Homo sapiens: one gene and its partners. The protein of the gene in region 7 purifies or fractionates together with the protein of the main gene of each other region. This does not show direct contact. Each region holds a gene or a part of one and is shown on either strand. Other genes may lie near its edges. The genes, in order: KIAA1671, MYO5B, ITPRID2, MYO1C, ARHGAP10, MYO1E and NRXN1.

The links.
Region 1: the proteins of NRXN1 (region 7) and KIAA1671 purify together in Homo sapiens (affinity purification with mass spectrometry, with the first as the bait; one large-scale study listed by BioGRID). This does not show direct contact.
Region 2: the proteins of NRXN1 (region 7) and MYO5B purify together in Homo sapiens (affinity purification with mass spectrometry, with the first as the bait; one large-scale study listed by BioGRID). This does not show direct contact.
Region 3: the proteins of NRXN1 (region 7) and ITPRID2 purify together in Homo sapiens (affinity purification with mass spectrometry, with the first as the bait; one large-scale study listed by BioGRID). This does not show direct contact.
Region 4: the proteins of NRXN1 (region 7) and MYO1C purify together in Homo sapiens (affinity purification with mass spectrometry, with the first as the bait; one large-scale study listed by BioGRID). This does not show direct contact.
Region 5: the proteins of NRXN1 (region 7) and ARHGAP10 purify together in Homo sapiens (affinity purification with mass spectrometry, with the first as the bait; one large-scale study listed by BioGRID). This does not show direct contact.
Region 6: the proteins of NRXN1 (region 7) and MYO1E purify together in Homo sapiens (affinity purification with mass spectrometry, with the first as the bait; one large-scale study listed by BioGRID). This does not show direct contact.

The regions. Positions count from the first base shown.
Region 1 is NC_000022.11:24,959,062-24,963,257, reverse strand, and holds part of KIAA1671 (uncharacterized protein KIAA1671), read right to left. Parts: intron 1-4,196.
Region 2 is NC_000018.10:49,838,249-49,842,444, forward strand, and holds part of MYO5B (unconventional myosin-Vb), read right to left. Parts: intron 3,207-4,196; coding exon 3,117-3,206; intron 2,178-3,116; exon of another isoform or gene 2,115-2,177; intron 1,117-2,114; exon of another isoform or gene 1,047-1,116; coding exon 896-1,046; intron 1-895. UniProt on the Homo sapiens protein: May be involved in vesicular trafficking via its association with the CART complex. The CART complex is necessary for efficient transferrin receptor recycling but not for EGFR degradation.
Region 3 is NC_000002.12:181,894,304-181,898,499, forward strand, and holds part of ITPRID2 (protein ITPRID2), read left to right. Parts: exon of another isoform or gene 1-395; intron 396-1,726; coding exon 1,727-1,776; intron 1,777-2,248; exon of another isoform or gene 2,249-2,320; intron 2,321-2,604; coding exon 2,605-2,661; intron 2,662-4,196.
Region 4 is NC_000017.11:1,475,258-1,479,453, forward strand, and holds part of MYO1C (unconventional myosin-Ic), read right to left. Parts: coding exon 4,174-4,196; intron 3,479-4,173; coding exon 3,359-3,478; intron 3,236-3,358; coding exon 3,153-3,235; intron 2,936-3,152; coding exon 2,830-2,935; intron 2,715-2,829; coding exon 2,634-2,714; intron 2,340-2,633; coding exon 2,248-2,339; intron 1-2,247.
Region 5 is NC_000004.12:147,878,256-147,882,451, forward strand, and holds part of ARHGAP10 (rho GTPase-activating protein 10), read left to right. Parts: intron 1-976; coding exon 977-1,083; intron 1,084-3,582; coding exon 3,583-3,677; intron 3,678-4,196. UniProt on the Homo sapiens protein: GTPase-activating protein that catalyzes the conversion of active GTP-bound Rho GTPases to their inactive GDP-bound form, thus suppressing various Rho GTPase-mediated cellular processes. Also converts Cdc42 to an inactive GDP-bound state.
Region 6 is NC_000015.10:59,134,868-59,139,032, forward strand, and holds part of MYO1E (unconventional myosin-Ie), read right to left. Parts: intron 3,501-4,165; coding exon 3,331-3,500; intron 2,590-3,330; coding exon 2,513-2,589; 3' UTR 1-2,512. UniProt on the Homo sapiens protein: Actin-based motor molecule with ATPase activity. Unconventional myosins serve in intracellular movements. Their highly divergent tails bind to membranous compartments, which are then moved relative to actin filaments.
Region 7 is NC_000002.12:51,025,307-51,029,502, forward strand, and holds part of NRXN1 (neurexin-1 isoform alpha4 precursor), read right to left. Parts: intron 3,889-4,196; 5' UTR 2,968-3,888; coding exon 2,196-2,967; intron 1,164-2,195; coding exon of another isoform or gene 1,065-1,163; intron 1-1,064.

The DNA of each region.
Region 1 (4,196 bases), on a different chromosome or scaffold from region 7:
CAAGTAGCTGGAATTACAGGTGTCCGCCACAAAGCCCGGCTAATTTTTGTATGTTTAGTAGAGATGGGGTTTCACCATGTTGGGCAGGCTGGTCTCGAACTCCTGACCTCAGGTGATCCGCCCGCCTCGGCCTCCCAATGCATGACACATTTTTATGGAGAGATGCCCAACTGAAGGAGAGAGTGAGTGGCCTCTAACCGTGCAGCTAGCTCAGTGACCCCTGCGGATACTCATAAACCTGGGCTCCCAGAAGCCTGCTGAGTGCATTCATAGTGGCGCCATGTGAATACTTCTTAGATCAGAGCTCCCCGTGACTCTTTTCTGGCTGGGTCAGGGCTGCTTCAGGACTCAGGAGGGCTGTGTGGCTGGTAAAGGCACTTTGGCCATCCTCAAAGGCCTGCTCTGGACTGACCCGTATCAGCTACAGCAGAAGGGGGAAAGCGCACCGGCTCAGATGCAGGGCCCCAAAAAGCATCTGCTTCTCATCATTCTTTTCCCCAAGGCCCTGGTGGCTCCCAGGAAGGGAAGCAACCTCTCTGGGCCTCCGTAGACTAATAATAATACTAGTAATCCTAACGATACTAGCTAAGGCTCATGTAAATTCATTAGCAAGTGCCATATGTGTTAACACATTTAATGCTTGTCAACCTCATGAGGCCAGCTCTCTTATTACTCCCAGCTTACAGATGAGAAAACTGAGGCCCAGAGTGGTTAACTGCCTTGCATAAGGCCACACAGCTGGTAAGCGGTGGAGCTGGGATTTGAATCCAAGCAGTCCGGCTCCAGGTTCCCTGCAATATTCCCAAGGGAATGGGTGGCGGAATTCCTCATTCTGCCCCTATCAGGACCCCCTCAGCTCCATGCCAATCCTCACAGCCACCATCTGGTTATCATCTACCTCATGCCAAGCATTTCACAGTCCTCGTTAATGGGCACAAGCACACTGTGACCCTTTTACAGACAGGCAAACTGAGGCTGAGGGATGTGATGAGGCTGATCAAAAGTCACGTGGCCCACAACGAGCACAGCTGGGATTCAAACCCAGGCCTATCCCTCCCAGTCTCACCTTGGCGTCGCTGCGTTCTCTCACTCTACTGGCTACAGGTGTCACTGCTCAGGGGATTGTAAGCCAGCTCCAGCACAAAAATCATCATCAAGACAATCATCCCTCATTTCCCATCTCGCCTCACAGGTATAAAGCACCTTCTTATGCAGTAATATCTCTGAGCTTCCCAGCAGCTCGCCAGAGAAGACAAATTATTCCCATTTTCCAGATAAGGAAACTGAGACTCAGTTGGTGAACTGCCTGTCTCTGGTTATAAACTCAAACCAGGTCTCCTTACCCAGAGCCTCTGCTCTGCGACCACTTGTCCCACACAAATCATGAGCCATGATTCTTACCCATGCCCTCCAGGCAGACCCTCTACTCCTGCAAGGACCCGTCCTACCCCATCAGAAACATAATTGTGGCAGGTTCTATTATTGCTCAGCAAATGTTTCTTCAGCCTCCATGAGAGGAGTAGACTTCAACTCATTGATGTCAGGCTTGCCACGTGACTTGCTTCAGCCTATAGCATGAGAGCAGAAGTGACAGCTTCTCAGTTCAGAACGGAGGCTTCTGTTGTCCACCACAGAAGAACACGCCCTGGCTGGCTGCCACCCTTCAGCCTGTGAATCTGGATGAAGATTCACGAGCCAGACCTGAACCCAATCCAAAGCCTAGGGCCAGCCTTGCTGGTGAAGCCTAGCTAAGGTCAGCCAAGCTACCTGCTGACTCGTGAGCATGAAACAAATGTTTGCTGTTAAAGGCCACTGCGATGTAGGAGATGTTTGTTACACAGTATGATCACAGAAAAGCTTGACTAATACAGGGACCACGTATGTCCAGAAAGACTCGTGTGTACATGGGCAAATATCTTCCGAGACAGAGTCTCCAGCAGTTTGTATTAAAACCCAAGGGCCAGGCTGGGTGTGGTGGCTCACATCTGCAATCCTACCACTTTGGGAGGCTGAGGCAGCAGGATCGCTTGAGGAGTTTGAAACTAGCCTGGGTAATGTGGCAAAATCTCGTCTCTACAAAAATTAGCCAGGCGTGGTGGTGCATGCCTGTAATCCCAGCTACTTGGGAGGCTGAGGTGGGAGGACCACCTGAGCCCAGGAGGTTGAGACTGCAGTGAACTGAGATCGCACCACTGCATTCCAGCCTGGATGAAAGAGCAAGACCCTGTCTCAAAACAAAAACAACAACAACAAAAAGAACCCCAAGGGCAACAAAATGTTGTCACTTATAAGAACTCTCACCTTCCCTCAGGCCAGAGGCCATGTCCTATGGCCAAAGACAAGAGACAGCCAAACACTGTTCCTTCTCTCTGAAATATACAAAGAGGCTGTCTCTCGCACAGCTGTGGTAAGAGTGTGAAAGGTATAGCCACTCTGCTGGGAAATTGGGCAGGTCATTTCAACGTTCTAAACACCCTTCCTCCCTAAAGTTCCACATCCTGGAAATCTGTCCTCCAGCCTACTACAACAAATGTGCAAAGACATGTCAACAGGGATGTTAACTGCGGCACTCGGTCATAGCAAAAAAAAAAAAAAAAAAAAAAGAACCTGAAAAACAACTCAATGTCCATCAACAGGGGATCGGTTAAATAAGCTCATAGCACCTCATGCACTGGAAATTATTCAGTTTTTTCTTTTTTTTTTTTTTTTTTGAGACGGAGTCTTGCCCTGTCACCCAGGCTAAAGTGCAGTGGCGCGATCTCAGCTCACTGCAACACTCGCCTCCCTGGGTTCAAGCAATTCTCCTGCCTCAGCCTCCCGAGTAGCTGGGATTACAGGCGCGTGCCACCATGCCTGGCTAATTTTTGTATTTTTAGTAGAGATGGGGTTTCACCATGTTGACCAGGCTGGTCTTGAACCCCTGACCTCAAGTGATCCGCCCGGCCGCCTAAAGTGCTGGGATTACAGGCCCGAGCCACCACAGCTGGCCTTATTCAGCTTTTAAAAATAATGAGGTAAATCAACACATTCTGAAATGGGAAAGTACCTAAATCTATTTTTAATTCACGTGTGAAATTATTTGTTTTATTTTATTTATTTATTTATTTATTTATTTATTTATTTATTTGAGACGGAGTCTCACTCTGTCGCCAGGCTGCAGTGCAGTGGTATGATCTCGATTCACTGCAATCTCCCTCCCAGGTACAAGTGATCCTCCCGCCTCAGCCCCACGAGTAGCTGGGACCACAGGCGCCACCACACCTGGCTAATTTTTGTATTTTTAGTAGAGACGGGGTTTCACCATGTTGGCCAGGCTGGTTTCGAACTCCTGACCTCAAATGATCCACCTCCCTCGGGGTCCCAAAGTGCTGGGATTACAGGCGTGAGCCACCGCGCCCGGCCGTATTTCATATTCTTAATGGAGACATGGCTATAGAACATTTCAAAGGTCACTTAACTGAGCAATTAACAAATGTAGCTGTGATAGCTTCTGCCCAGAAGTCAAGTCCATAATTATTTGCTTACTTGTCTCACCTTGCCCCCTTCCTTCTTCTCGTACAGTTGACCAGAGGATTCCTAAGGGCAGGTGATCTTTTGAATTTTTCACAAATAGAGTGCCTTGCCCACATAAGATGCTCAATAAAATATTCATTGCATTGAAGGAAAAAATATATATATGTGTGTGTGTGTGTATGTGCCTCGATTGTTTGTTAGCTTCCTTTTATTTTTACTTTTTGAGACAGAGTCTCACTCTGTTGCCCAGGCTGGAGTGCAGTGGCACCATCTAGCTCACTGCAAACTCCACCTCCCAGGTTCAAGTGATTCTCATGCCTCAGCCTCCTGAATAGCTGGGATTACAGGCAACTGCCATCACGCCTAGCTAATTTTTTTTAATTTTATTTTTATTTTTTTTTAGTAGAGATGGGGTTTCACCATGTTGGCCATGCTGGTCTCAAACTCCTGCCCTCAAGTGATCCGCCCACCTCTGACTCCCAAAGTGCTGAGATTACAGGTTTGAGTCACTGTGCTTGACCAGCTTCCTTTTATTTTTAATTTTAATTTTTTAAATTTTTATGTATTTATGTATTTATTTATTTGAGACAAGGACTCACTCTGTCTCAGGCTAAAGTGCAGTGGTGCAATCAAAGCTCACTGCAGCATCGAACTCCTGAGCTCAAGCAATGCTCCTGTCTCAG
Region 2 (4,196 bases), on a different chromosome or scaffold from region 7:
CTACCCATTTTTATGAGGAAGTTGAGGTATAAAGCGGTTAAATAACTTGTCTGAGGTCACACTGATAGGGAGTGGCAGGGCCAGGATTTAAACCCAAGTCTGTCTGACTCCAGAACTGCTGCTATTAACCTTCACATTATTCTGAGTATCTCCAGCTTGATATGTCAGTTCTCCCTCTGTCTGGTGCCTTATAAAAAGATTTCCAGACAGGAAGGAGGGTTTGGAATGAACCTCATTTCAAGTAATGTATTTCTAGATTGGTCCTTCTTGGGATTCACTCATAACCTACTTGTGTTGTAAGAACCTGGGGAAAGCATTATGAATAGGTCCAGGTACACTTTCCTTCCCAGCCTTTGCAGAGCACAGTGAGTAATGCATCTACACATAATTTTTCTTCCGATTGAAAATGTAACTGCTCTCATTTCTCAATTCTGATTTCATGTTCAGTGCCCAAGTACACTGCTTGGTTCAAAGCAAGTGTCTAATAAATACTGATGCATCGTGCCGACTGCTGTGTCCTTTCGCATGAACACTCCTGCTTTTTTCCATGAATCAAGTTCATAATAGGTTAAGAGGGTTATGCTTTTTCACTGTATATGCATTTGTACCTTTTGAGTTTACATTTATTATGTATTAAAATTTGGGAAAAAATACAACATATTACAGAAAAAGAGATAAAGGGAAAGTCATCTATGCCTCTTGCACTGTGTCAAATACTTTCACAGCTTTTTAAGCATGATGTGCACACCTCAGTTCTGCCTTCACTGGAAGGTTCTGGCTTTCTGGAGGTCATGGCTAAGATATCTGGTTCCCGAAAGGCAGAGGGTGCTGACCACGCCTTCCCCTCATTTCAGACACCATGATGAGTGATGTAGCTCTCCTGCTGCCAGCTTACCTATCATCGGCTGTAACACGCCCTCGGCAATTTTAATGAGCTGCTGGTAGATCTGAATGGAAAGGTCACTCAGCACCTGACGGTATTCGGTGAGGTCAAAATTCTTAAGACAGTGTTCATTCTGCTTTGCAGTGTTCTGAGTCATGAAGCCCTGCAGAGGGAGAGGCGTGCACTACTGAGTTCTCTGGTCTGCTGGGCCCAGCACAACTTCCAGGGCTCTGGTAACTTTAGTCATCTATTTGGTGGGCAGGGGGCCTACTCAGGCCCTCCCTATGTAGATGATGTTTTACAAAAGCCTGTCAGTTCTTTGAGGCCTCATTGATGACCCTTGAACTTGAAGGATGTAGAAAAACTCAACATGAGAGAGAAAGCCTGAATCGCTCAGTCCAAATCCCTGAGGCGAAGTGATTTCCCTACGGTAGCAAAACCTAGGTTGGTACCAGGTCCAGAGAAAGGGATCCCTGCTTTTTCCCTTCATCCAGCGCTTTCCTCAATATATCAGGTCCCCCTAAAATGTTAGATGATGTGCAGCCTCTAAAGGAGTGTGGCCATGGGCCAGATTATACGCTTGTATGAGGAGAAATTTTATACAGATTCTATCACTGGTTATCAGAATTAATAGATGAACTAAAGTGATTTCATAGCTACCGCACTGTGTCCTCTTAGCTTTCTGTATTAATCAGATGAAATCACATGTAAGTTAAGGGAACTGCTGATATCAGAAGGGCTCATGTGACCAATGTCCTTTTCATTCAGGCCTAGGGAAACCAGTATCTGCCAAAAAGATTAGTGCTCCCAAAAGGGCAACCATCTTCAGCAAGGCCTGTTGTACTGTGTCAAATACAAAGCCATCTTAATATGAAAAAAAGCAGGCAGAAAAGGGGATAATTGTAATGATGAAGATAGAGTCAATCATTCTTCCTTGTTATTTGGACTACACGGATCTGGTCATGCTGTGGTTCAGCTCTTGACCCAGAGAATATGAGCACATGTAACCACAACCTAATGTAATGGAGTTCTAGGTCCTGCCCTAGCCTTATATAACCTCCCATTTAGAATGTGTATAACATTGGGTAAAGTGATGGACCTCAATGAAATAACATTACATGTAGTTCTATGCTTCAAGTAAATGCTTGGATATTATGATTTTGTAACAGAAGTCATGGGGTTTGAAATGGCTATTTCTTTAACCTTTGGCCCATCTCTTTTATAATAAAAGCAGGCCATCAAATGAAGTGCTGGTTCTTAGGAGAGAGATGGCGTCAAGCCAACTGCAAAGAAGGTAAGACTGAAAGGAAGGGCATATCCTTTTACTAACCCAGGGAGAAGAGTCTGTCAAAATTGGTTCTGGCACAAAAGATGGAATAAAGCTTTAAAAATGGTCGCACTATTTTGGTTTACACTATGTCTTGACCTTGGGAAGGGTGGATGGTGAGATATGTGAAAGGAAGGGGAAGAAAAGTTGGAAGACCTACAGGAACCTGTGAGCGGGCATATCTGGAACAAGCTGGGATTCTCACCAGAGAAACTAGAATGGAAACAAGCCACATATTACTAGGTCATTGGGCAGAGTGCAGAGCATGGGAGAAGTTCTTTCAGGGACCAAAGCTAGGAATGTGAGTTCCAGAAAAAGCTGGGCCTTACAGGTCCGGTGTGGATTGTGAAGTGATGGGGTTAGTAGTTGGGCCTCAGGTCAAGGAATCCAATTTGGATAAATGCATGGAGCTGGGCCTCCAGGTCAGTTTGCACACACGTAGTTCTGATTATGGTGTGCCTCTGTTCTTGTGGCCATCTTTGTCTATCTTGAAATGGACAGATTAATCAGTTGGCTTAGGAGACAGGGTGACCCACTAGGCAACTGAGCTCCCTGCCAGTATCCACTGCAGTGGGGCTTCTAGAGCTGATACAGAAATGTCAGGTTACAAGAGTTTCATGGAGACTCCCAGGGCCTCTATTGATCATGGGTTATGCAGACTCTACTTACATAACCCAGGAGTGCTTTTTGGGGCCCCTTGGGCTCATCAAGGCCTCCTAGAGGCAGGTCTCCTGTGGCTGGCCTTATTGCTGCTTCCAGCCACGAGGCATGATAAGGTGTGCCCACGGTCTGAGGTCCCCAAGGGTGCTCCAAAGACCCCACTGACCTCTGAGGGTATACAAAGCACTTCTCAACCACATTTGGATGAAGCAGGAATGCCTCCTGGGTGCCTGGCTCCCCACTCACCTCATCCCCGCTGTACTGCTTCAGACAGTGAAGAAGGCGGCAGGTGTTGGATAACCAGAATGACGTCATCTCAAAGTCATCATTGTGCTTCTGTGAAAAGAAAAGGACATCCTCAGCTCTAAGTGGCTCCCATCTGGTGAAATGCTTCCTCGGTACCTCTTTCCCCACATTTCCTACCCTTACCTAGTGTTCCTGAGCAGCCCTGAGGCTGGGCAGGGCACTTGCCAGTCACGGGGTTGAGACCCATTGCTGAGAGGCTGTGTGAGTGTTCCTCTACCACCAGGGATGGTGCACAGAACCCCCACCTTGGTCTCCTGATCAGTGGTGCACATACAGGGACACACATAAAGGACAGGCTGCCTTCCATGGCTGAAGAATGAATGCAAAGCTGAGTGACAGATGAGGCTCTGCCCCAACAGCCCCGGGCTCTCGTCTAACCGCCTGGGCTAGCTGGCTCTGTTTCTGAACTGCCAGTTATCCAACACAAGGGATGCTGAAGAGCATAACAGCAAAATAGTTTGGTGTCCCATTTATCTAGATGTCAGATGCATCATGGCTTTAACTCTCTAGAAAATGGCTACAAACCCTAACTAGGTGAAAAAGCCTGCTCAGCAACCCAAACAGCTATGAGACAGCTGCTGCATTAAAGCTGATGACTTCACGCAGCTCATTCTGTCAAGTAAGCGTTATCATTATTTAAATGACAGAGTGGTATGAGGTACGACCAAAAGAAAAAAAAAAAAAAAGAAATGAGGTTGAATAGAAAGTGACTGCTGGGGCTGGGACATGCTATTTTAGCTCAGAATTAGGGAAGGCTTTCCTAAGGAAGTGACATTTGTGTCAGCCCTAAATTGGCCTAGACTGGCCGAAGATTCCAGCTGGATGGTGCTCACGAAAGAGGATCAAGGCTGGAGACACAAATCTGAGAGCCACGAGCATGCAGATATGTTTTAGAGCCGTGAGTGGATAAAATTGCCTGTGGAGGGCAATGCAGCTACTGAGGGCAGGAAACCAGACTTAAAGGCTGGCTCTGGAATTCTGAGCAGCAACCAGCAGCTCAGTGGACTCCAGAATTGGTTT
Region 3 (4,196 bases), about 130 Mb from region 7:
CCCTGACAATTTCAGAAGTTTTGTTGCCAATACTGATTTATGTGGGCAGATTCTGTAGTCTGCTGCTCCTTCTCTCATGGATTACCTTCTTGTTCCTACAGTTGCACCTATTCTACACAAGAGTGGCATTCATTTGTATCCAGGAAAGCTAGAACAAGTAGTCTTTTAATCTTGGCTATATTATCACAGATTCGACTTAGGATATGTTGCATCTGTATTTTTGTTTTAAATAACAACTCAAGTTCCTTCTCAGAGTTGGGCATCTATGTATTTTGTTTATTATGTACAAATGACCTGAAGACAGCATTTTACCCACTTGATAAGTTCTCAAATAGTCTTTGTTTCTTAGTGCCGTCCATATCCTGAATAAAGATACCGTGTTTTCTTTCCTTAAAGGGAGTCTTTATTTTGATAACCATTTGTGGGGGGACTAAGTAAAAACTGCTTGAATTAACATTTAAGAAATGGTAGAGATTTTGATAGAATTTGGAAGGGAGCAACTATAAAAGTAAGATATTTGTTTTCGAAGGAGGATTCCTGTTACTCTGCTTATCTACCATTTTCTGTTAGTGCATAGACCAGTAGAGACATCTGTGGACAGAGTAATACAATGTTTACATCCAAGAAAGTAGCCATCAGGGAAGGATGACTTTTTAAAGACATACATTAGAATTTTATTAAAATATATGCAAAAAATAGATTAAAGCTTTTATTAATATATTTATGGTAATTGCTTGTGATTCTTTTACGTTTCAAAAGCACTAAGTTTTAAAGAGCTGCCATTGTTAGTATACTTGTAGAAAGTTTTAACCTTTAATTGGCATTTCAGTAACATTTCCTTGAAACTGATATTTTCATGATTGATCCCATGTCTCGTGAATTTTTAACAGCTATAAATTGTTACTGAAGAAAGGTGTGCATCACAAAACAGACCCTCCAATATAAAACAATGTGTTTCTTACTATAACTTGGTTTCAGAGAATTAAAAGTGTTTATTTTTGTATTTGAAAAAAAGATATTTCTCTCATCTGTATTTGAACTACAAGAATGAAAAAATTTTAGCAATGGCTAATCTTAATGTTGATTCTCAAGTCAACTTTTTAGTAATTTTCAAAGTTAAATGAAGAATATATATATTTTTTAGCTTAAAAACAAAGCGAATCTCAAGCTTCTACATTTACATAAAAAGATAGTTGTTGGGGCAAGGGGGAGGCATTAGGTGATGCTCTGAAATGCTAGTGATAGATTAACAGATGAGGTTTAAGGAAACTATTGGGCCTCATTTCCAACTACTCTTCACTTTTTAATTTTATTAAGGTTAAGTTACCTATGACTGAAGATTTGTTTTCTTCTAATTCTGTTTTCTTTTTTGATGGAAGGGGTTGAGAAGAACAGACATTTTCTTAATGCTTATTGTCAGTCATTCTCTCTTTTTTGCAAAGAAAAATGCCAATTCAAATCATTTGTCATTGCCATTTTTGCCCCTAATTGTTAGCACATCAGACATGATTAAATCATTCCTGCTGAACTGACCTGATGGCAGGTATTTGCTTAGTTAGTGAATATTACTTATGTAATCTACTTGCATTCCTTGTGTGTTTTTGGAGGAGAGTTTAACTGTGATTAGAAGCTTATTGAGCTGTAACTCTTTAAGTAAGGCTGTGTAATGACAACTTTCCAAATAGCCTTTCACAAGACTAAGGCTTATACGTTTATATGGTTTCAGTACACCTTTGGGAGCCTCACTGGATGAACAAAGCAGTAGTACACTCAAGGGTAAGAGAAGGTTGCCTTTCTAAATCTGTTCTTTATGACAGTTCTACTTCTTTGTCCTCTGGGTAAAAGTGTATATATGACTTATAAAAGTGATATTCATGTTTATAGTATATGCTATTCTGAGCTAGAAGCAAAATGGAGAAACTTTGTTATAAACCGTAAAACAGTAGGGAGTTTAAGCAAATTGCCTAGCCTTTTCACAACGTGAAACTTATATCTTTATTGTCCAGTTAGGTATTATAAAGACTAATTAAATATGAATATATAATATGCAAATATAAGGAAAATACTTATTGAGTGAACAAAAGTTTAGTCAACTTTCGTGCAGCATTTCTTTGCTTACATTTACTGAAATTGCCACACCTAAAATTTTACCACCTGTTCAAGACAGAATTCTAAAGTTCAAAGTACAACAAGCATGTGCAGGCAGTGGCAAGGCATATAAAAAAACATTTACAGTGTCAGGAAAATCCAGCTCCTGACTTAATATGAGATGGATAAGAAGAATATTTGCTCCAGGATCTGGTTTTCCATGAAACTCTTGGTATGTAGTCTGATTGAACATCTTCAAAAATATAAGTTTAAAACAGCCTATAGGTTGGCTTCTGAGAACTTTATGTTGCTGGAAAAGTGGTTTCTTTACGTTAAAGTAAAAGCTTATACCTGCTTCTTGAAGTTATATAATCAGAATAATGTCTGAGTACATTCAAGTCTGAAAGATTTTACTGTATAAGATATTTTGCTGGGTGAATTTAACTAAAACAGTGATTTTATATGAGGGTGGAGAGGAACAGAACACCAGGATGAGTTTTCAAATGTGTCTTTCAGGTGTGCTTGTGAGAAATGGAGGAAGTTTTGAAGATGATTTGTCATTGGGAGCTGAAGGTATGTTTGTTTGGAAGAACTGTATTTTTGTGTAGTTTTCAAATTTAAAAAAAATGAGAAAGCTGAATGGTTTCAGGTTTATGATCCTCAAGCTAAATTTAAAGGTCTTGAAAATGGCTCAGGCATATTTTACATTACCTTTCTTTGTTAATAATCTAGTCATAGTCTGTAGGATACATGTAGGGATGACTCTGAAAAACTATGTGAAGTGTCCATCTGTCTTTCTTGGACTAAATGCTTAAAGGAACAGTTTGTAACAAACCGTGGTAATATAACTGAGGGAAGAATTGTCCTGAAAAAGGAAGGACACTTAAATATTTATACATGGGAAAACAAAATTGAAGCTTATTTTTAGCGCAAAATAGACTTATGTCATACTTACAGCTGCAGCTTGTCTTTCTCTTTGCATTTAAGTGTCTCCTGTCTTTTCCCCATTTTCCTGATTTTTAGAAAATTAAAGGGGAAAGACAAAATAGCAGAGCTAATAGAATTTTATTAGAAATCATGCTGGTGTTTATTCCAGAAAGCATTAGATTTTAAAAAGTGTGTTGTGCTATTTAAAAGTTTTTACAAGTTATGTAATGTTTTCCAGTAGATTTATAATAAAGCTTTCTTGTACAAAAAATAAGAATTTTTAATTATTTTACTGGTGTTTTAAAAGCTATTTTATAGCTCATTGATCAAATTGCATAGATTATTCATAGCTGTATAGCTCAGTTATTAATGTGTACTTTTTTAAAAAAAACAAGGATTTTTAAAAAGTCTTTAAAGCTTACAAGTTGGTGAATAGTGAATTTATACATTGAATTTAATATTCTTGATTTTTTCCTGTTTCAAATGCATCTGTAAAGTAAATTACTTATTTAGAACCTTCTAACATTTAAAACTCTGGAATATGCAAATATATTAGTTCTTATTATTTCTGTTCATATATTTTCAAGCTCTATAAAGAGCTTAAACTTACTGATTCCCACTCAGTACAATTGAACATGTTGTCAATCCGTTATTAAAATGCACTTTGCACTTTTGATATTTGCCTTGGTAGTTTGATAATATTGAATGATTTTATTGGAAACCAGAACCTAAAAAGGAGTCTCATGAAAGAGTAAATCTATTATGTTGTTTTACTGAAAATTATTTCAAGGCTATTTCCATTCATTAAGTAAATAATTACTGAGTGCTGTGAGTTAGGCACCTTTCTGGTGGATGTACAAAGAAACACAAAATTGTCATAACTTTGTAGATCAGAAATGAAAAGCAATTCATGTGTGCTGAAATAGATGTGTTTATAATTAATTTTATTCTTTGTATTTGTCTATAAATTTAACTTTAAACATTAACACTTACCTGTTTAGAACTTTAAGCTAAAGTTCTATCATAAAGTTGAAAGGCAATTTTTAAAAGAAAGTTTATATTGAAATAAGTAGAAATTTTCATGTTATATGTGTGAAAAATCAGTTATAACCTTAAAAAAAATTCACATTAGAAACTGACATATACTATTGCCACACTTAATGTTAAATCATGTTTTCCTC
Region 4 (4,196 bases), on a different chromosome or scaffold from region 7:
AAAATACAAAAATTAGCCAGGCGTGGTGGTGGGCGCCTGTAGTCCCAGCTACTCAGGAGGCTGACAAAGGAGAATCGCTTGAACCTGGGAGGCAGAGGTTGCAGTGAGCCGAGATGGTGCCACTACACTCCAAAAAAAAAAGAGCAGGTGCACCCCCAGGGCTGGGTCACTGAGGCAGGCCAGGCAGGGCCAGTGGCCTCCCTGATCAGAGCGGACCATGGAGGCTCAGAGAGGTAGATGGCCTTGGCCAGGGCCACACAGTGCCAGGACCGGGACCTGGGCCTCCTGACGGCCAGGGTACGCTGCAGGGAGGGAAACTCTCGTTGCTTCGGCCGCTGCGGGCTCTGCTCAGAAGGGGTGGTGAGCTGCGCACTACTTTTCAGAATGGAATCTGCTGCCCCAAGAGAGCACTTAAGTCTTAGGCGTGTTTATACCCTTTCACCCATTTGCTTTTAAGAACTATTTCAAGCAGCTAACCAGAGACACGGACAAAGATTGAAGGCACGGAGATGTTTGTGGCAGCCTTGTGATTCCAGCAGAAACCTGGGAGGCTGGCCAGGGGCCCCGAAGGGCTGGGTGAGAGAGGGGAGTATCTGTGGGTCAGAACCGCTCCAGGAAGTGTTCTGAGGAAAATGTTGTTTGATGATACGGGAAAATGTGCAGGATATTTACCCTGAGCCTTATACACAAGTTCTCGACTACGAAAAAAAATGCATAGAAAAAGGCAGGAGGGAAATGCCTCACACAGTTAACAGCCATGGCCTTTGGGCGACGGGATCACAGGTGGCTTTTGCGCACATTCCAACTTTGCTGTAATAAGCAATATTATTTTTATAATCAGGAACAAGTTTTTAGTATTTATTATTTAATGAATCAGGCAGCCCCTAAACCCGAATAGATTCAGAGAGACTCCTAGAAACAAGTCTTTTTTTTTTTTTTGAGACGGAGTCTCACTCTGTCATCCAGGCTGGAGTGCAGTGGCACCATCTCAGCTCACTGCAAGCTCCGCCCCCCAGGTTCAAGCAATTCTCCTAGCTCCCAAGTAGCTGGAATTATAGGTGCCCACTACCACGCCTGACTAATTTTTGTAGTTTTAATAGAGATAGGGTTTCACCATGTTGGCCAGGCTGGTCTTGAATTCCTGACCTCAGGTGATCTCTGCCCACCTAGGCCTCCCACAGTGTCGGGATGACAGGCGTGAGCCACCACGCCCATCCAGAAACAAATTTTCAATATATTATTATGCAAAAAATACTCATGGCTTTGGCATTCAACAGCCCTGGCACTGACCCCAGCTCGGCAACCCAGATGAGAGCTAATTTTGGGGAAATGACTTCGCCTCTTGGAGTCTCAGTGAGAAAACACCAAGAACCCCTCAAGGAGCAGCTGCAGGTGAAGCGACGACATGCACAGCATGCATCAGACCGCGCTGGACAGAGGCGCTTGTTCCTGTTTCTACCTCTCCCCACTTCAGAGGATTCCTTCAATAAAAATCAATTTCCAAACAAGGAAGATGAAAAATCTTAGCAAGTTTCATTCTCAAACAAGAAGAAGGAGGAAGCCAGGCTACTAGTGTCTTGTTTTTTGTTTTTTTTTTTGGGGTTGAAGTCTCACTCTGTCGCTCAGGCTGGAGGGCAGTGGTGCGATCTCGGCTCACTGCAACCTGCACCTCCCGGGTTCGAGCGATTCTCCCGCCTCAGCCTCCCGAGTAGCTGGGATTATAGGCACCTGCCACCACACCCAGCGAATTTTTGCATTTTTAGTAGAGACTGGGTTTCACCATGTTGCCCAGGCTCGTTTTGAACTCCTAACCTAAGGTGATCCACCCGCCTCAGCCTCCCAAAGTGCTAGGATTACAGGCGTGAGCCACTGCACCTGGCCTTCTTTCTCTTTTTTAAAAAATTCATTATTTATTTTTTTCCCTTTTTTTTTTTTTTTGAGACGGAGTCTCGCTCTTGTCACCCAGGCTGGAGTGCAGTGGGTTGATCCTAGCTCACTGCAACCTCAAAACTCCAGGGCTCAAGTGATGCTCTTGCCCCAGCCTTCTGCATAGATGGGACTCCAGGCGTGTCAGCATGCCTGGCTAAGCTTCTTAGTTTCTGGACACATGTGAGGGGTCCTTAACTCAGCACCGTCCCTGGTCACCTCCTTGTGGCTGGTGTTTTGTGATGGCGGAGGGACTCCTGCACTCCGCAGGCTCTGCTGCAAGTGAGCCCTTGCCCCCAGCAGCCCCGCAGCCCCACTCACGTCAGGAAGTGTGGATGGTGCTTGACAGTATCCTCCAGCTTCTCCAGGAAGGTCAGGTCTGTGGCCTCCCCGGGGCGCAGACACTCCTCATCCTGGGGGGTGTGGCACAGGGGGAAGGACGTATGGGGGACAGGTCAGAGCGCACAGAGGATTGGGGTCACCGTGCTGGGAGGCACAGACACAGGGGAGGGGCAGATCACAGGGAGTCTCCACAGAGAGCTTCCAACTGGGGCGGCACCTCCCTCCATCCTCCATTCACAGCTCTGCCCTGTCTCTACTCAGCCCCAAACTCTGGCCCTCCGTGGACCAGCCTGGAGAGAACGGAGAAGGGGGACATCCTCCCACCCAGCCTCCAGCACCAGGCCTTGGAGGCGCAGAGGACTCACCAAAATCGAGATGATGCCCTTAAACTTCTCCTCCACCAGATCACAGATGATTTTGTTGTTGAAATACTGGACGGGCTCCCACTGAGGGGCAGAAGGGAAGGAAGGGATCACCGTGGGGTCCTGGCACCCTCTCCCAGGGGCCCCGATACCCAGGCTCCCCGTGGCCCACGGAGAGTGCCCCCAGGCTAGCACACACCGCGATGCCCTCTGCCTCGTACTCCTCCTGCTCCGACTTGAGCGTGAGCTCGATGAAGAGCTGCTGCAGCTTCTCGTTGCAGTAATTGATGCAGAACTGCTCAAAGCTGTAAGGAAGGAGAAGAGCCCACAGTGGCTCAGTGGGGACACAGGACCAGGAGAGGGGAAAAGCTGGACGACGCCCCTGAGCACAGGAGGTGAGAAACACAGAGACAGTCCCCGGCTGGCTGGGGAGTCACAGGGCAGGAATGAGAGGCTGGAGGACAGAAGAGAGGGAGCAGGACAGGAGACCGGGAGGAGAGACGGGGGAAAGATGGCACCGACCTGTTATGCTGAAACACTTCAAAGCCATAAATATCCAGGAGCCCGAGAACCGTGGTGCTCCGCCAGCTGGGGCTCTCCACGTCCTAGGGCAGTCATTCAACCGAAGGCGTGGGCCCCCTGCGCGTGCCAGCCCCACCCTGCAGCACCCCCCGCCTCGCCGACGGCCCTCCCTTCTGCCTTGGGAGCAGTGTGGACCGAGCCCTCACCTTGGAGGCCAGCGACCTGTTGATCTTCCCGACGAGCCAGGTAAAAGTGCGGCTGTACACAGCCTTGGCGAGGGCGTCTCGTGCGTACGCGGCCTGCTCCAGGTTCAGCGGGCTCAGGAGCTGTGGACGCAGCGTGAGACAAGGAGATGAATGCCACAGAGCCTGTGCATCCCACCTGCTCCCAGGCTCAGGCAGACCAGGAAGCCGCCACCACTCTGCACTCCCAGCTCCAGCAAGCCTGCAGTATGGGGAGGGGTGCTGGTAGTGGGACCTCAGGGAGGACAGGTGGCCACCCCAGAGGGAAGGTGGTAGAGGGACAGGAGGCCTCCTTCCCGAGGTGGGAGTCTGGTTCTAGCCGGACTGTTACTCTCTTCCTATGTGACCCTGGCCAGCTCACTGTGCTGCTTCTTTTTTTTGAGACAGAGTCTAGCTCTGTTGCCGTGATCTCGGCTCACTGCAACCTCCACCTCCCGGGTTCAAGCGATTCTCCTGCCTCAGCCTCCCGAGTAGCTGGGATTACAGGCGCCCGCCACCATGCCCGGCTAATTTTTGTATTCTTAGTAGATGGGGTTTCACCATGTTGGCCAAGATGGTCTCGAACTCCTGACCTCAGGTGACCTGCCCACCTCAGCCTCCCCAAGTGCTGGGGTTACAGGCGTGAGCCACGGCGCTCGGCTCTCACTCTGCTTCTCTGAGCAGCCTTCCTTCCATCCCTCCAGCATTGCTGAGGGAACCAGGCGAAGGGGAGTGATGGGAGTAGGGGCTGCCTTGGAACAGCTGCCCCTCCACACCCGAGGGCAAGGGCCCGGCCTCACCTCCTCCCCCTTGGCGATGATCT
Region 5 (4,196 bases), on a different chromosome or scaffold from region 7:
TGGCTAAATTTTTTGTATTTTAGTAGAGACAGGGTTTCACAACGTTGGCCAGGATGGTCTCCATCTCCTGACTTCGTGATCCACCCGCCTTGGCCTCCCAAAGTGCTAGGATTACAGGCGTGAGCCACTGCGCCTGGCCCATACTTCATTTTTAAAGGCTAGCTTTCAATCATCAGTAAGAGCAGCTGCTTACTAGGATGCTGTTCATGGACTTAAAGCACTAGGTGGATTTTTAGACTAGATGCTTCTTAGCACTATGATTCTATAATTCTATCATTTTGAGAGGCCAGAATTAAATCCCAAACCATCTCATATATGGGATGGAACTTTTGAAACCCTTGTGAGCTCTTAATACCTAGAAACAAACAAAAAATAGAGCTTACAATTAAGAGATTTTCAGATAGGACATAACTGTTGATTTTTCTAGCAAACTATTTAAACAGTATGTCTTTAAATCACTTCTGTCTTGCTAAATCTTAGAGGTTTGTTTCAAAGTATCTCTTATTTTCCTTCTTCCTCTTTTTTTTTTTTTTTTTTTTGAGTCGGAGTCTCGCTCTGTTGCCCAGGCTGGAGCGCAGTGGCGCGATCTCGGCTCACTGCAAGCTCTGCCTCTTGGGTTCACACCATTCTCCTGCCTCAGCCTCCCGAGTAGCTAAGACTATAGGCGCCTGCCACTATGCCTGGCTAATTTTTTTTAGTAGAGATGGAGTTTCACCGTGTTAGCCAGGATGGTCTCGATTTCCTGACCTTGTGATCCACCCGCCTCGACCTCCCAAAGTGCTGGGATTACAGGCGTGAGCCACCGTGCCCGGCCTCCCCTCTTCTTCTTAGAACTAGCAGTATTGCTGATTTGTTTCATTGATTCAGCTGTATTCGTTGCTGCGTTTTAGACATTTCCTCTTTAGTAATGTGTTTATAGCTCTGCAAATCTGCTTATTTATGAGGGAAAATATAAAGGGCTGTTTTTTTGTTGAAGGGCCTGCTCCGTTTGGTTCCAGTTGGGTCAAACACTATTGCATGTATCGAAAAGCAGCAAAGAAGTTCAACATGATCCCATTTGAGCACAGATCTGGAGGGAAACTTGTAAGTATTTGATTCAACATAGAATAGATTATAATCTGTCAGAGGTAGTGTTTGAGGGTGTCATTTTAATGGTTTATATTTTAATGGTTTATATTCATGGATGGTAAATAAATTGTTAGTATTAAAATCTTTGTTTTGTTTTTGAGTGAAATGGGCCAGAAGACAGAACAATATATATGTTTTCTGAATTACATGCATGGGTTTTAAACCACTAGATTTTTTTTTTTTTAAGTTCTGGGATACATGTGCACAACGTGCAGGTTTGTTACATAGGTATGCATGTGTCATGGTGATTTGCTGCACCCATCAACCCATCATCTACATTAGATATTTCTCCTAATGCTATCCCTCCCCTAGCCCCCAGCCCCCTCACAGACCCCAGTGTGTGATGTTCCCCTCCCTGTGTCCATGTGTTCTCATTGTCAGCTCCCACTTAAGAGTGAGAATATGTGGTTTTAACCACTAGATATTTTTTAGGTGAACAATAGAATCCTTTTTATGCCACTGTTTGGAAGATAAAGGTAACACTGACAGCAAGCTTTCATGACTCAGTGGTTCCTCAGCATTTATACAATGGAACTGACTTGCTGTTCATAGCCTGAAAACAAAGAAGAGTGATCTACGATAAATTTTACTGTTGTTCTGTTCATCTTACAAAGTTCTCACATAGGTATTCACCATTTAGTTAACTGTTCCCCCTGAAACTAAAACAGCAAAGCATGATAGTAAGAAAAGAGCAAGAAGACCTCACAGAGTTGGCTGTGTAGGAAAGGTGATCTTTATATGTATTTTAAATGGAATCTGCAGCTTATTACAATAATTAATGGCCTAGAGACAAAGCTTCCCACCAATGTTGAACATAATTGATAACACATTTTAAGAAAGCAGCTTAATTCATTGCTTACTGGGTGAATGGGTATGGTTTTGCTTAGGTGAATAAAAAAAGAAAAACCTATGTTCACTTCTATTTACTTGTACTATGCCTTTCCCTGAAAAATATTTAAAGCAGCTTTTAATAAAAACACATTTATATAATAATGAAACAGACATGGAAAATTAGTCATGGTGAGGAGAAGGAAGTGAGGAGATGGCTCTTGAAGCATCAGGTTTGAGACTGAGTTTCCTGTCAGAGCCAGTTCAAGTCCTAAGATATTTCTGCTTAGTGATATCTTTCTGTTTTAGCCTCCAAATAATAATGATAAATATGTTATGGAATATAACTGTGAGATTTTGAATATTTGTGTATCTTAATGTTTGTTACTTAGAGATCTTCACGTTCTGGAAAATGTTAAAATGTTCAATAAGTGTGTACTCACACTTTATATAGTTGTTCTTTTACTGAGCACTTGTATTTCTGCATTGCAAATTAAGTAAAGATAAATTCAGGGTGATTCACATAGGGAAGAGAGAAATTGCATAGATTAAATGGTTCTAGCTTTAGATTATGAAAATATTTAATCTAGGGTTATCGGTGTACTTTTAGGCTGACGTGTATGGAATTGCAATTTTTATAGGCCAAAAATAGTCACATATTTTTTGTGACATGTGGTAAGAAATAAATTTTTACACTAAAAAAAAGAGTACAATAAGAGACTAACAGTATTCCAGTATCTTAAAACTGTACTGTTAATCTACCTTTGAAAATTAACATTTGGCCAGGGACACTGGCTCACGCCTGTAATCCCAGCACTTTGGGAGGCCGAGGTGGGCAGATCACTTGAGGTCAGGAGTTTGAGACTGGCCTGGCCAACATGGTGAAATCCTGTCTCTACTAAAAATACAAAAATTAGCCAGTCATGGTGATGCACACCTGTAATCCCAGCTATTTGGGTGGCTGAGTCACAGAGTTGCTTGAACCCAGGATTCGGAGTTTGCAGTGAGCTGAGATTGCACCACTGCACTCCAGCCTGGGCAACAGAGCAAGACTGTCAAAAAAAAAAAAAAGTAACATTGGTATTGTCTGGCATAACATTACCATCATCAGTAAGGTCTAGAAAATCTTAAGAATCAAGAGAATGGCTGGGCGCGGTGGCTCACGCCTGTAATCCCAGCACTTTGGGAGGCTGAGGCGGGTGGATCATCTGAGGTCAGGAGATTGACACCAGCCTGGCCAACATGGTGAAACCCTGTTTCTACTGAAAATACAAAAATCATCCAGGTGTGGTGGTGCATGCCTGTAATCCCAGCTACTCTGGAGGCTGAGGCAGGAGAATCACTTGAACCTGGGAGATGGAGGTTGCAGTGAGCCAAGATCCTGCCACTGCACTCCAGCCTGGGTGAAAGAGCGAGGCTCCCTTCTCAAAAGAATCAGGAGAATGACAAAAATATTAATATTTTAGATTCTAAATAGCATTTAAATAAGCCAGTTTGAAAGAGGATAGGGTAAAGAGAAGGACTTAAGATCTTGAACCTTGCTCCCCTGCTCTCCAGTATAGAATGGCTGAGTGTGTATATACTTATCCTGTAGGTTTTGAGAATGTTCAAAATGATTATTTGCAGGGGGACGGAGAGGTGTTCTTTTTGAAAGAATGTACCAAGAGGCATACTGACTCCATTGACAGAAGGTTTTGTTTTGACATAGAAGCTGCTGATCGGTAAGTTATTGGAATTATTGGACATGGTGAAAGAGTCGTTTTAAAAAAATGATTTAAAAAAATAGAGGTTAGTTGCAACTGTGATTTCTGTGGCCTGGGAGAATGTTATCTTGCTATATTTCCAGGCTGTGTGTTCATTATAAGCTGTTTAGTCTTGATCACCGGGTTTAGCTATGGGGTGATAGTTTCATCTTGATTTAGTTAGGAGTCATTCTAACCAGGGTTGTCACTTAAAAAATAACCTTGGAGGCCAGGTGCAGTGGCTCACACCTGTAATCCCAGCACTTTGGGAGGCCGAGGTGGGCAGATTATGAGGTCAGGAGTTCAAGACCATCCAGGCCAAAATGGTGAAACTCTGTCTCTACTAAAAAGACAAAAAAATTAGCCAGGCGTGGTGGCATACACCTGTAGTCCCAGCTACATGGGAGGCTGAGGCAGGAGAACCATTTGAACCCAGGAGGCGGAGGCTGCAGTGAGCCAAGATGGTGCCACTGCACTCCAGCCTGGGCGACAGAGTGA
Region 6 (4,165 bases), on a different chromosome or scaffold from region 7:
CAGACTAGAGGAAACCCAGGTTAGTGTCTTAAAGGGAAAAAAGACATTTTTCTGAAGACTTTTTAATTAGGAAAAAAAGGGAAATGTTATTTATCCCAGATTTTTCTGGTAGTCCCCATGTTGAATTTCTAAATATATACAAATAAGTTTAAGATAAACCACTATTTCTCCAAACTTTTCTTAATAGTGTCAGCATTTCAGCATCTCTACGCAGATCTAAGTCTCCTTCCCCTGTGGGTCACTTACCTATTTCAGCACCATTTGTTGGGCATCTCCTTGAGCCTGGCACTGGCTGGGCACACGATGCAGGTGCTAAGGGCTTGGTCTGTGATTTCCATGGATGAGGGTGTTACTCGTGGGGGTTTAACTCAGTCCCTGTTTTGTGACCTAGAGCCCGATGGTTCCCAGTTACACACAAGTGTAAAATGCCAATCAATCAATCAGGAGGAAAAACAAAGGCTTGTCCCAGCCAGCCAGGGGCTTATGATAACAAGGGAAGATGGTCCTGGTGTTCCTGCCCTGAGAACGCAGCCTGAGTGCTGGTGGCTGTGGGGACTCCAGCATGCTCCTCTGTCCCAGTTCTGGTGGTATCTTCCTCCCACTGCGGGGAGTCCATGAATGTGAAAGTACTTTAGAGACCACTAGTGTCAACAGGATTACCTTTCCTCAACTCACCGCATCATGGCTCTACTTTCCTCTCTGGTCGCAACATGGAACTGAAGTAGCCTTTTAACATTATTCGTTACTGTTACAGAATGGAGTTTGCTCCCTGTTCTTGAAGTAAAACACAGCAGAATTAAATGTATCTTCGTTTCAAATCTAGATCAATTTTTTTCCCTTATACGTAAGCCCTGATAATTTTTTCCCATGGACTTGAGGATCCTGAAAGCCTCAAAGGTGTATGCTGCTCAAACTCTAAGTTACCAGTAGCTTAAGAATGGCTATGGCACCCAGAGGAGGAAAGGTAGAGAAATGGCAGTCTCTACTTACAACCATTCCATTATTGATGGGCATTACACTGATTCCAGCTTTTCACTATTATGGCAAGAAAACATTGTTTTAGTTTGTTAGGGCTGCCGTAACAAACTACCACAAACCGAGTGGCTTAAACAGCGAAATGTATTGCCTCACAGTTCTGGAGGTTGGAAGTCCAAGACCAAGGTGGGCAGGGCTGGTTCCTTGTGAGGGTGTGAGGGAGAATCTGTTCCAGGCCTCTGTCCAGGGCTTGTGAATGGCTGTCTTCTCCCTGCCTTTTCACATGGTCTTTCCTCTGGCATGTTGGTCTCTGTGTCCAAATTTCCCCTTTTCATCAGGACACCATTATATTGGATTAAGACCCACTCTAATGACTTCATTTTAATTAGTTTTGTTTGTTTGCTCCATAAAGACTCTATTTCCAAATAAGGTCATATTGTGAGGTACTGGTGGCTGGGACTCCAACATCTTCTTTGGAGGCACACAATTCAACCCATAACAAATGTCATAAAAGAAGAAGGTGTTCGCCGATTCCTTTATTTATTTAGGAGGTGGGGGCAGGACGCGGAGTAAGTTTCCTATAGGGAAAGAGTTGAGAAGAGTCTGCAGGGACTGACCTAGAAAGCAGTGACACTCCGTAGTTGGAAAAAAGCAGAGCACATCTTTAAGTACCTGGTGTGAGTTTTGTAAGAAAACCTACCTTATGAATGAGTACAGTGGAATACTACTTAGTACATTCATACATGTTTCTACCATCTCAAGATTTTTATATATACAGTATATGATCTGTTTTTATAAATGTACAGCTTGAAAAAAGATCCTTCTTGTAGTAAGTACAGCATTTAAACACAAACCAATATGGGCCAGCCACATTCTAATTGAAGACCCAGAGAAAGCAAAGCCAGCAGCCCAGCCCCCAGCCCCCAGCCCCTGACCTGCTTGGCGGCCCTGATGGTCCCGGCAAAGTGTAAACCAGTGCCCCTCTGTCGCCCTGGGCTCAGCAGGCCAGCTTACCCTTGGCACGTACATGGGAAGTGCCTGCTCACGCTAAGCCCAGTCTGCAGAGGGCGGGTCCTCCCTGAAGGAAGGTGGCAGAGAGGAATGTGTCTATCAGGTATGGACAAGAGAGATGAAAGAAATGTGCTCTTCAACTAAAGGCACTTGTCAGCGGCCACCTACAGCCATTCTCTAGGCCTGGTGAGCAAGCAGGGTGCTGTTTTGATAGAAGCCTACAAGGTCTGAGCAGACCTCACTTGTCCTCTCACCAGGTTTAAATACAATAAATAAATCTTAATGCATGGTGGTTTTGTCCTCCTGGGTTCCTATGAAGAGGCTACCTTTTAGGATCACTTATGGAGTGATACTCCCTGTCCCCAACCCAGCCTTTTCAGTGTCCTCCATGGGGAAGGTACCAGAATAGCTCCAGGCCTTGGAGAAGCAATTGCTCATTGTGGATTGTAAGGGGAGCCCCTAAATATCCCCTCCCCTGGTCTGTGCCTGGAGCTCCTCTGCCCCATGTGTCAGAGTCACGGGCACCTCAGATCTTGGTCACATAGTTGTTGGGGAACAGGCCCTGCTTGCCTCGTAGTCGACCCGTCCACCAGCCAGAAGGATCTGCAGGGAGAGAGAGGTGGTGGAAGTGAAGATGAGAAAGTCTGTTCTGCCCCAGCCACACACACTCCGCTCCCATGGGCTCAAGTGATTTGGCTCCATCCATGTTGTTTTCCCTTTGTTCTTTAAATCAAAAAGTTTGTTGAAAAAAGTAAGATATCTACCAAATTAATAAAGCACTCAGCCAAGCCCATGGACTGCTTTAATAATGGATATTCAAGGTTGTCTTCCTGGCTTCCACTCCATCCACTTTCATTATGAAGAAGCCAGGAAGTGTGGGTGGGACAGACCTCCCCGTTTCTGGGGACAGCCCCTACCAGGTCTCATCCTCTCAGGGTACAGCCTTTGTCTTGCTACTGAAGTTGGTTCAGGGATGGACACATGGCTAATTTGGTCTGATCAGAATAAAAGTCAGGACTTTTGTCCAATGACTAAGAACAGAAGTTTCAGAGATGATGCACATTTCAGACATGGTTTGATATGTTGGCCTGGAATTGCTGCTGCCGTTTTGCTACCATGAAGAAAAACAGCTTGACAAGGGAGGGAATATAAATAAGGGGGCAGAGCTGAAAGAAGCATTAAAAAAGCTGGTGTCTTGATCAGACTGAGCCTGAGGCCTGACCTGCCTCTACAAATTGCAGTTTGAGGAGCCCATAAATTCTTTTCATTTTCACACTAGATCTTACAGCAATGTGACTGCATGCTCTTTGGGAGGCTGTCCCAGCCAACCAGCCACACACTTACCTTCTTTGATAATATCAATAATGTCATTGGCATTAAAGCTGAGTTCGTCTGTGTCCTGAGCGTCATAGGCATACAAAGCCTTGCACTGTGGCACCTGAGGCTTGGGCTTGGGCTGGGGCTTGGGTCTGCCCCCTGCTGGGGGAGGCCGACTGGTTGTTTGTCTCCTGACCCTGTGGAGAGAGTGGAGCAGATGAGACTGGGCCCCAACAGGGGGCAGCAGCACCGAACGGTGGTTTGGAGCATGGCGGCCGGCACTGGCCTGTTCAAGTTCAAATCCAGCTCCATCCTTAGAAGACATGTGGCCCAGGGTGCAGTCTTTAAACTTGAGGAATAAAAGTAACTTTTCTGACAAGGTTGTTGCAAATGCACATAGCTCTTAAAAACCTTAGCTGCTGTTGTCACTGTGTCCCCAGCATAGAAGGAAATGTGGGAGACACATATCCATAAAAAAGTGTCAAAAGTATACCCATACATTTAAATCAGGAACATTCAGGTATCTGTCCCTCCTTCCTCAAGTTTCGAAATGGAACTTTTGCAGGTGCCACAGAAGCCTGTAGGCATTTCTCCTTCACTGCATTCCCCCCAGATTACCACCACCTTACAGTTTGTATTAACCATTCTCTGGCTCATCTCTACAGTTTGCCACACATGTAAATACCCCTAGCCAATATTTGTGGTCCGACTGTCAACTGTATGAAAGGAATCATATTCCACGGTCACATGCTCAACAACTGGATGACGTGCCCTGCTGATGCCTGCAGCTATCGTTCCTTCACCCTTGCTGCCTGATACTACACCACTGCGCGAGTGAGTGTGTCACAGTTTACTTCTCCAG
Region 7 (4,196 bases):
TAATTCCAAATTCTTTATCTTATAGAAAGAGCTATCCATTTGCAAAATAAAATGCATTTCAGATACATCTAATTCTGCTTCTCTTTAACAAATTACTTTTTCCACTCTTAACTGTTCCTGATTATGCATGATCTCTGAATCCCTACATTAAAAATGCATAGAAAAATAAAAATTTTCATTTAAAACACCCTCCCACACAGTACAAGCTGTCATTGTGTCATATTTGTTTCCTAATTTAAGGAAGGAAGCTATATTTCATGGGTCCTTCATTAAATTGCCTTCTCTGTATTTTAAAGTGGCATTAGGATACTTAAGACAATTTTCCCATAAAATAATGTTCATTTTAAAATTTGTTTCTATTAATCAGTGCAAAAGTATGCAACTTCAAATTACAGTATGGAAATTATCATATCTACCTAGCATATTATTCATGATTCACAAGTAGATTTGCTAGAAGAAAAAAACTATCTTTTTTATTTTGTAAAACATAACTGTAAAGCCTGCTCTCATAACCATAGAAATGTACTGTTAAAGCTGAAGTGCTGTATAGGCCATGGAATACACAGTTTTCTATAATTACCTAAGCCAAAATATAATGAAAAACAAAAACCCACATGAAGACAGAGCGCAACAAAATAGCCCTTTCTTTCTTCCCCTCCTCCTAATCCTGTGAAGGCTACAGAAGTCTCCTAAAGACCAGTTTTTTTTCTTCCTAACTAACTCTCCTTGCTGTTTAAACAATTACAAATCTTATCAAGTCTTCATTTCTCTTAAAGTCAAGTGAGAGAGAACTGCCAACTCTAATAAGATTTACAAAGGCTAGTTCCCCTTAGCACTGTCAGCAAAAATCAAAGACATTATACAATAAAACGCAGCCACACAGAGCTTTTGTCCCTATAGCTTTCGAAATCAGATTTAATAATTCACCTTTTTTCACCCATTTCAGCCACAAATGCCATTTATCCATGTGTTGATTGCCTTGCTTTGACCCATAAGCTATCTACTTTAAATCCTGACATCTCCTACTTAGCCACTGATTCGTCTTTTTCACACCACTCACTCACTTTCTGTTAGAGGCTTTGCTGTATTTATACAACAGTATTTTCCTTGGTCATTGTCATGTAACAGCACCGGCAAAACACACTGAAGACCGAATTTTATTTCTAAAGAGGAGAAAAGAGAACTTAGGTATGACTTTTGTAGTTTAATGCCACACTGTTTTAAGCCCCAAGAACCACAGAAATTACAACTTGGCCTCCACTACCCAGATAAATGTCATTAGCCGAATATCCTTAGAAAATCTCTTGCAATCCCTTACATGCATCCCTGTTTATTAGTCTGCAGAAGCTTCCCAATCCAGCAACATCTAAATTTCTCTACTACTTTATTTCTCTTTATAAGGCATTTGTTAATTAAGAAATCTTATTTAATCTCTAACATTTTTAAACGTCAGCTGACCTCACACTTCAAGAAACCGCATAAATGACAAAATTTTACTTAAATTTCACAAATGTTGGACTTGGATATAACAGTGGAAACCAACATTATTCCAAAAAGCCTCCTGCTAATGAAGAAACGCTTCACATCCTCTCTTTCCCTTTTTCCACAACGAAAAGCAGGTTTTTACCGCTCTATCTGCAAAAGGCAGAGCACTGCCCGTGAACCCTGTCTTTCTCGTCCTTTACCACGAGTGACCAGAACCACGTGGGGATTCTCAACCACGGCCGTGGTATACCTCTCCTGTGCTTCATTTCTCATCAAACACATGCCCAATCTTCTAGATGCTTGTTTGCATCTTAAGGGCAAAGTCTGTGTGTTACAGATTTAGAAGTGGTAGAGACAAGTACAGTGGTCATATAGGTGGGCCGCGGCCCAATATAGGGCCCAACCTGCCAAAGAACCCGAGGAATAAGAAGAGGCCATTGTATTTGCCACTTGGAAGGGAGTAGTGTTGGTAGAAAGGTCTCCAGAAGGAACTCAAACTTGGATATGGGGGCTGCCAATCCTTAGGAGGATGTCAAGGGAGAAGCTGTGGAGGTGGTAAGGTAGAGAGTCCCCCAGAAACAAGGTCCTTCCCTCGAAGCGAACTGCCACACGTTTGCCAAGATTAGGAAGACCCCATGCACCAGCCCGGTCCCCTCCTCCCCGAGCCCCGCCCAGGCCCCGGCCCCCGTGGGTCGGGCGTCGGGCCTTACCTTGGCTGCAGTCCTTGCCGCGGAAGCCGGTTCGCGAGCAGTCGCACACGGCCTGGTCGTCCACCACGGAGCACACACCTCCGTTGAGGCACACCCCGCCCTCGCCCTCCTCGCCCGCCTCGCACGGGCTTCCCCCGCCGCTGTTGGGCGGCTCATCGTCCAGCTTCACCTCGCCGCTGTCCACGGGCAGGACCTGCGAGGAGTTGACCCTCACGTCACGAATCCACCCCTTGAAGGGCTCCCGCTCCCTCACCGAGGCCAGGGTGAGCTTGAGCGCCGCGGCGCGCAGTTCCGGGGGCAGCCCCCCGACGAAAAGGCCGCTGAACACCGTCATGTCCCTGCGCTTGGACTTGACCTCCACCCACTTGGCCTCCACCTGGTCGATGAAGAGCGTGGTGTTGCGGAACTGGCGGCGGATGCGCACGCTGTGCCAGGCGCCGTCGTTAACCGGCGTGTCGGCCAGGAGCGTCGCAGGCTCAGCGCAGAAGATGGAGAAGCTGAGCTGCAGGCGGCCGCCGCGCGTCAGAATCAGCTCCAGGAAGTCGCAGAAGCCCTCGTCGTCGAAGTAGAGCACGAGGCCGCGGGCGCTGCGAGTCTTGAGCTGGAAGCTCATCTCGCTCTCGCAGCAGGCGTTCCACTTGGGGAAGCGCGTCCATTGGCCCTCGGCGCCCGGAAACTCCAGCCCGCTGCCCAGCTCCGCCCAGCAGCCCAGGAGCAGCAGCGAGAGGCACAGAAGAAAACAGCCCCCGCGCTGGAGCAGCGCCGTCCCCATGCTCGGGGCTGGGGTGCGGCGGGGGGGTGCCGGGGCCGACAGGGTCAAAATGGTCCTGGACACCGTGACGAAGAAATAAGGGTCCCGAGAGACAGAAAGGTAAGGGGAAAGGCGGGAGTGAGAGGGATGTGCCCTCCTTTATCTAGTTCTTTTTTTCTTCTTCTTCTTCCAATAACCCCGCCCTCTCTCCCTGTAGTCCTCTTCCAACTGGAAAACGTTGACCCCAGTGGTACAGGGTAGCCACAGAACTTCCAGACCAAAGGGAGGATGCACTTTGGAGACAACGTTCTGGAAAAGGCTTCAACAAAAGATCAAGGGAAAGCACTGACCCATTTGAGTCTGATTAACTAATTTAAGAGTATCTGCAGTGTCAACAGATACTTAACTCCTCAAATCCCATTATCTGCCAGGTTCCACCAGTGGTACCAGGCCAAAAGGAAGCAGTGAGAGTCAGTAAAAAGAAAACACTTTTCTCAAGAAAGTACAGGAAGCCAGCAGTGAGCCAGTATCCTTGGATGCTTGTGAATGCCTCAAGTCTGTCTCCTTCAGATGTGGTGTCTTACAGCAGAACGGAGAAAGGGATGCTTGCCTCTTTAGGGCACCATTTCTTAACCCGAGGATAGCTTCAAAGGCCTGCTTCTTCTGTCATAGCATGGGCTTCAGCACCGCTGCAGCCAAAGCCTAATTCCTTGTGCGTGGTCTCACAAGTTGGATTTTACTTCTCTTTTCAGCCACGGCAACAGTAGGACTCAAACCCAGCAGTTGCGAAATAGCCAGAAGCTGTTAGATGTGGAAATCGCAACAGCTCCTCTTCTTTTCTCTCTGCCTCTGCAGGGCCAAGCTAAGATGCCAGCACATCAATTGGTTGTGTGTTGGTGATGCATTTTGGTTTTATCTTGTCTTTTTTAAGGACTCAGACATCTGCAGAGAATTAAAGTCAAAATTAAGGTCTAAAGTCAATATAGTATTATATAAATCATTATTCAGCTCATAACACAAGTGTAGACCTGGTCCTATTAGTAAGGCAAAGAGTTAACCTTCTTGTATGGAGCTTTTGTTATCCTCACTACAAGTAAGTCCTAACATTTTCTAATAGTTAATATGACACTTTTACAGTCAGCCATGACACCCTTGTAGTTTATTATAACTGTTAGTTGGTAACCCGAAGTTTTAAAGAGAAATTTGATTATGGTTATCTTTTTCTTTTCGCAAGATAGTTTAATTTTTAA